2 linked regions of the Homo sapiens genome follow. The protein of the gene in region 2 purifies or fractionates together with the protein of the main gene of each other region. This does not show direct contact. Each region holds a gene or a part of one and is shown on either strand. Other genes may lie near its edges. The genes, in order: POTEI and CDKL4.

Evidence for each region.
Region 1: the proteins of CDKL4 (region 2) and POTEI purify together in Homo sapiens (affinity purification with mass spectrometry; 3 studies listed by BioGRID and IntAct, with this or other methods). This does not show direct contact.

What each region holds. Positions count from the first base shown.
Region 1 is NC_000002.12:130,458,747-130,461,760, forward strand, and holds the end of POTEI (POTE ankyrin domain family member I), read right to left. Parts: 3' UTR 709-3,014; downstream 1-708.
Region 2 is NC_000002.12:39,237,293-39,241,119, reverse strand, and holds part of CDKL4 (cyclin-dependent kinase-like 4), read left to right. Parts: intron 1-3,827.

The sequences.
Region 1 (3,014 bases), about 91 Mb from region 2:
TTAGCCAATTCAGATGCCTTGCTCCCCACAATTTGGAACATTCCTTTGGATTTGACCAAGTCAGGAAGAGATGGGAGAAAAGTGAAACAACAATAAAACCCCAAACATAAACAAAAAGAGTTAAGCAAAACAAACAAATGCACAATTCATATGATTAACTGAGTGTTCTAATGGTAAGGAGGAATTAAAAGCAGCTGGTGGGTAATCTTAAATTTTAGTCATTAAGGAAAAATTTTAAGACAAAACTCTAATTCAGCTACTTACCTGGAAATAAGGCTCAGACTGGGTGATCATTCTCTGCCATCTTAGAAGCTGGAAAAACTTACACTCACCTTCCCTGTCAGAAGCAAGCTGAAACTCAGGAAAGGAGGTGCCTGCTCTCCTTTGTCAATGGAAGCAGGAAAACTTGCCTTCCTTGTTGGAAATGAGTAAAACTTCAAAAAAGGAGTTGTACAGCAAAATCAACCTTACATCTCAACCAAATTTTCGGAGATCAGGGACTCTGTGAAGGGGAGAAGCTCCACAACCTCAGCAAATTATCCTATTGGTTTGGGCAATACAAATAGCCCAGGTTGGTATCAAGCAATAATGAGATTTATCAAAGGTCAGGACCACCTTTGTAATGTCCTTCTCTTTTTTTATCTTTATTGGTAGAGTCTGTTTTGTCAGAAACTGGGAGTGCAACACCTTTTTTCTGTTTTCCATTTGCTTGAAATATTTTTCTCCATTCCTTTATTTTGAGCCTATGTATGGCACTGCACGTGAGATGGGTTGCTTGAAGACGGCATACTCCAGTGGGTCTTGGTTCTTTACCCAGCTTGCCCCGTGTCTTTCAATGGGAGCATTTAGCCCATTTACATTTAAGGTTAGTAATGGTATGTGTGGATTTTATCCTGTCGTCATGCTGTCAGCTGGTTATTTTGCAGACTTACATATGTGCTTGCTTTTTAGCATCATTGGACTGTGTACTTCAGTGTGTTTTTGTAGTAGCAGGTGATGATCTTTTCTTTCCATATTTAGTGCTTCCTTCAGGAGCTCTCGTAAGGTAGATCTGGTGATACCAAATTCCCTCAGCACTTGCTTGTCTGAAAAGGATCTTATTTCTCCTTCACTTATGATGCTTAATTTTGCTGGACATGAAATTCTGGGCTGAAATTTCTTTTCTTTAATGGCAGTTGATGTGGGTTGGGGTGTGTGCTGCACTCCTGTGTGCTCTCAGGGCAAGTAAAGCAAAACCCACCCGTGTAAACACACACAGCAAAGTGATTTAGGAAGTTTCCAAATAAAGGGCTGCCGTATGGAGAGGCAATGTGCAGGCTGGTGCGTGGCTCTAGGGGCCACCTTGCTGCAGCTCTCCACTGATATGGTACAGTCCACTAGCACGGAAGCTATGGTGTGGGCATCTAAGAGTGCCCCGTAAGCAGGTGTGGCCAGGCTGGGGCCATGGGAGAGGCGAGCAGACTAAGGAGTGCTGAGATCAGACCAGCCCCATCTCAAGTGCAAGATTGCCCAGCCTCCAGAGATCAGGTCTCAGAGGAGAACTCTCTCAAAAGTGAACCCCCAGCACAGCACAGCCGCTCTACACAAACGTGGCTAGACTTCTTTTATTAAGCAAGTCTCCTTTTTTTAAAAAGGGAACTCTCGGACCTGATCTCTGCTGGGCAATCTTGCATATAAGATGTGGCTGGTATGACCTCAGTATTCCTAAAGTGCTGGGATAAAGTGTCTCACAAGGGCAAGTGGACCCTAGAGAGACAGCCATCCCTGACCTCTGGGCTCCACATCACCTGACTTGCTGCTCCACCACTTTGCTTGTTTCCTGGGTGCTCCATCCCAGAGACATGTGAGTTAGCAATCACTTAGTGTAATCAGCCCAGGATGGAGGGTCTGTGCTGTGGGCCCAAGCCAGGGTTCCCTGTCTGGTGATGAGTAGTGGAGGGTGTGTGGTACCCGTGGGAGATGGACTGGCTTGTTCTTTGGGTCAACTGCAGCTTATTGGAGGTGTTGATAGGGCACTTAGGGTCTTTGCTCCCTTGCATCTTCTGAGGGCAGCAAGGGCAGTTCCACTGCAGAGGCAGTGGCAGAAAGGATTTCATTTGCTCCTGGAAGCTCTGTCCCAGGAACTGCAGAGTTGCTACTGGCTTGATAGCTCCAGTGGTGGGCTGGCTAGAGACCCAGGCCAGGAGGATCTGCCCATCAAGTAGAGAGCCTGGCCACTTTTCTGTAGGGCTGCTGTGGTATGCTGGGGGTCCCCTCCAGTCCCTAATTGCCTTGTATTTTCCAGGGAAGATGATAGTCTGCCCCTTCCTCTGGAAGCTCTGTACCACTGAGGTACGAACCTGTTGCCAATCTGAACACACCTATAAGATGTGGCTGGAGGCAAGTTGAGAAGTCTTACCTAGTCAGGACGAACAAGAACAGGGACTTGCTTCAAAAAGAAAAGTCTGGCCACGTTTTTATAGAGCAGCTGTGCTGTGCTGGGGGTTCACTTCAGCCCCTGGTCCGCCTCAGACACTCTGAAGCCCTAAGGCTGAAATGCCTGGGTCGCCCCAACAGCAAAGATGACAATCTGGTCCTCCCCCTGGGAGCTCTGACTCAGGGAGGCCTGAGACCTCTGTCGGCCAGAGAACAGCAGTCAAGGTAGCCAGAGACCCTGGTTGAAAGACTTCACCCACTGACTAGAAATGTGGTCAGGGACTGACGTAAACAAGAGTCTGGCCACGTTTTGGTAGCGTGGCTGTGCTGTGCTGAGGTACCTCTTCCACCCCTTGTCAGCTTGGGCTCTCCAAAGCCCGCAGGCCAGAATGGCTAGTCACCGAAAGAGCAAAGGTGGGGGCCTGCCCCTCTCCGGGAGCTCTGTCCCAGGAACATTTCACATTTCCATTGGCCAAGGAATGCTGGTGGGGGTAGCTGGAGGCCCCAGTTGGGAGGTCCTGTCCAGTGAGATGGAACAGGATCAGGGGCCTGCTTACAGAAGCAGTCTGGCCATGATTTGGTAAAGCAGCTATGCTGTG
Region 2 (3,827 bases):
ATATCAAATCTGCAGTCGAAATTTAGATTTTGCCAATTATCTTAGAAGTATCCTTTATGGTCATGTTGTTCACCAGTCCAGGATCCAGTTCAGGATCACACGTCGCATTTTGTTTTTCCATCTCTCTAGTCTTCAATCTGGAACAGTGCTTTGATCTTTTCTTTCATGACGTTGACATTCTTTATTAAGAGTACAGGCCGGTTATTCGTAGAATGCCCTTCAGTTTGGCCATGTCTATTGTTAACTCATAATTAGATTTAGATTTTGCATTTTTGCCAAGAATACCACAGAGGAGATGTGCCCTTCTCACTTGCACATTTGTCTTTTCTAGAAATTTCCTGTAATGGAATTATAAAATATGTAGGATTTTGTGTCTGTCTTCTCTCACTTAGCATTATGTTTTGGGGCATGTGGTTCTTTTTTCTTTTTTTTTTTTTTTTTTAATGTTCATCTACATTATAGCAAGTTCATTCCTTTTTGTTGCTGAATAGTATTTCGTTGCATGGATAATCCACATTTTGTTTACACATTCATCAGTTGATGAACATTTGGATTGTTTTCCATATAGGGACCTCTTCTGAATAATGGTGCTGTGAACATTTGCTTACATGTCATTGTTAGATCTATTTTAAAATTTTTCCTGGATAGATACTGAGGAGTGAAATTGCTGTTTATGGTTAATTTTTTTTTTTTTTTTTTGAGACGAAGTCTCGCTCTTGTCCCCTAGTCTGGAGTGCAATGGCACAATCTCGGCTCACTGCAACCTCTGCCTCCTGGGTTCAAGCAATTCTCCTGCCTCCCGAGTACCTGGGATTACAGGTGCATACCACCACACCCAGCTGATTTATTTTATTTTATTTTATTTTATTTTAAGTAGAGACGGGGTGTCACCATGTTGGCCAGGCTGGTCTCGAACTCCTGACCTCAGGTGATTCGCCTGTCTCGGCCTCCCAAAGTGCTGGGATTACAGGCGTGAGCCACCACGCCTGGCGGTTAATTTTTAAGTTAAATTTGTGTTTAACTTTTTTTTGAGACAGAGTCTCACTCTGTCACCCAGGCTGGAGTGCAGTGGCACAATCTCAGCTCACTGCAACCTCCGCCTCCCAGGTTCAAGCAATTCTCCTGCCTCAGCCTCCCAAGTAGCTGGGATTACAAGTGTGCGCCACCATGCCTGGCTACTTTTTGTATTTTTAGTAGAGACAGGGTTTCACCATGTTGGCCAGGCTGGTCTTGAACTCCTGAGCTCAAGTGATCCACCTGCCTCAGCCTCCCAAAGTGTTGGGATTACAGGCGTGAGCCACCATGCCTGGCCCTATGTTTAACTTTTAAGACATTGCCAAACTGTTTTCCAATGGAGCTGTGCTGCTTTACATCCTCACCAGTGATTTGTGTGAGTTCCAGTTTCCATCTTATCAACACTTGATATTGTCAGTCTTTGGATTTTAGTCATTCTAATGTGTATGTAATGCTATCTTATTGCAATTTTAATTAACACTTCCCTAATGGCTAACAGCATCCTTTCATGTGCTTAGTAGACATTTGTGTATCTTTGGTAAAATGTCTATTCACATCTTTTGTCCATTTTTAAATTGGGTTGTTTAACCTCCTATTGAGTTGTAAGCATGCTCTCTATGTATTCTGGATACAAATATTTTATCAGATATAAGATTTGCTAATATTTTTCTTTAGTCTGTGGCTTAGCTTTTCATTTTCTTAATGGGGAAATTTTTTGAGGAGCAAAAGATTTTAATGTTGATAAATTCCATTTTATCTATTTTTTCTTTTATGAATCATGCTTATGGTGTCATATCTAAGAAATCTGCATAACTGAAAGTCACAAAGATTTTTCTCCTCTTTTTTTTTTTCTAGAAGTTATACAGTTTTAATGCTTACATTTTGGTCTTTGTCCATTTTGAGTTAATTTTGCTATATTGTGTGAGGTGTCTGTCTACTGTGTGTGTTTGTTGTTTGTTTTGCATATGGATATCCAATGGTCCTAGTATCATTTGTTGAAAAGACTATTCTTTCCTTGTCGAATTGCTGCAGCAACTTTGTCAAAAGTCAGTTGGGCCAGGCGCAGTGGCTCACTCTTGTAATCCCAACACTTTTGGAGGCCACAGCAGGCAGATCACTTGAGGTCAGGAGTTCAAGATCAGCCTGGCCAACATGGTGAAACCCCATCTTTACTGAAAATACAAAAATTAGCTGGGCATGGTGGCACATGCCTGTAATCCCAGCTACTTGGGAGACTGAGGCAGGAGAATCACTTGAACCCAGGAGACGGAGGTTGCAGTGAGCCAAGATTACACCACTGCACTCCAGCCTGGGTGACAGAGTGAGACTCTATCTTAAACAATAAAATAAAAATAAAATAAAATTTTAAAAGTCAATTGACCATAAATAGAAGGGTTTATTTCTTGACTCATTATTATGTTTCATTGATATATGTCTTTATGCTGGTACCACAGTCTTGATTTACCATAACTTTATAGTAAAATTTTAAGTCAAATTTAAGATAAATTTTTAATATAAATATTCTAAATTTGTTCTTTTTCAAAGTTGATTTGGCTATTCTGGGTCGTATGCATTTCCGTATAAATCTTAGTTTCAATTTCTGTCCAAATAAAGCCTGTTGGAATTTGTATAAGGAATTAATTTTGTTTAATTTTGTTCATTTTGGCTTTTTAGAGACAGGGTCTTGCTGCATTGCCTAGGCTAGAGTGCAGTGGCATAATCATAACTCAATGTAGCCTCAAACTCCTGGGCTCAGGTGATCCTCCCGCCTCAACATCCCAAGCAGCTGAGACCACAGGCGAGGGCCACTAGACCCTGGCTAATTATTTTTTATTTTTTTAGAGATAGGGTCTCACTATGTTGACCGGGCTTGTCTCAAACTTTTCGGCTCAAGTAATCCTTCTGCCTCAGCCTCCCAAAGAGCTGGGATTACAGGCATGTGCCACCACTCCTGGCCAGGAATTAGTTTATAGATGAATTTATGAAAAGCTGATATCTTGCTGGGTTTTCAAATCCATGAACATGGCATTTTTCTCCTTTTATTTAGATCTTTAATTTCTTTCAATGGTATTTTGTAATTTTCAGTATGCAGGTCTTGCACTTCAGTTGTTAAATGTATTCCTGAGTATTTTATTCATTTTTACATTAATTTGGATGGAATTGTTTTCTTAACTTTATTTTCAAATTGTTTGTTGCCATTATATAAAAAGATGATTTATTTTGCATATTGATCTTGTATCCTACTTCACTGCAAACTTGGTGATTATTTCTAGTAGACTTTTTATAGATTCATTACGATTTTCTGTAGATAGTATCATGTCATTTCTGAATAATGACAGTTTTACTTTTTATTTTCTTTTTTAAAAAAATATTCATATATATTGAGCACTTCATTTAATAACTATTTATTTTATAGAGATGGGGTTCTTGCTGTGTTACTCAGGCTGCTCTCAAAATTTTGGCCTCAAGCAATCCTCCCACCTTGGCCTCCCAAACTATTGGGGTTAGAGGTGTGAGCCACTGTGCCTGACCTTACTTTTCGTTTTCAATGTATATGCCTTTAATTTCTTTTTCTTGCCTTATTGCACTGACAAGAACTTTCAATACAATGATAAATAAAAATAGTGAAAGCAAACATCTTTTTTCCAGTCTTAGGGGTAACACATTCAATCTTTCATCATTAAGCATGATGTTAACTGTAGATTTTTCACAGATGCCCTTGAGGAAGTCCCCTTGTATTCATCATGAATGAGTGTTGGCTTTTGTCAGATTCCTTTTTTGTGTGTACTAAGGTGATCATGTGATGTTTTTCT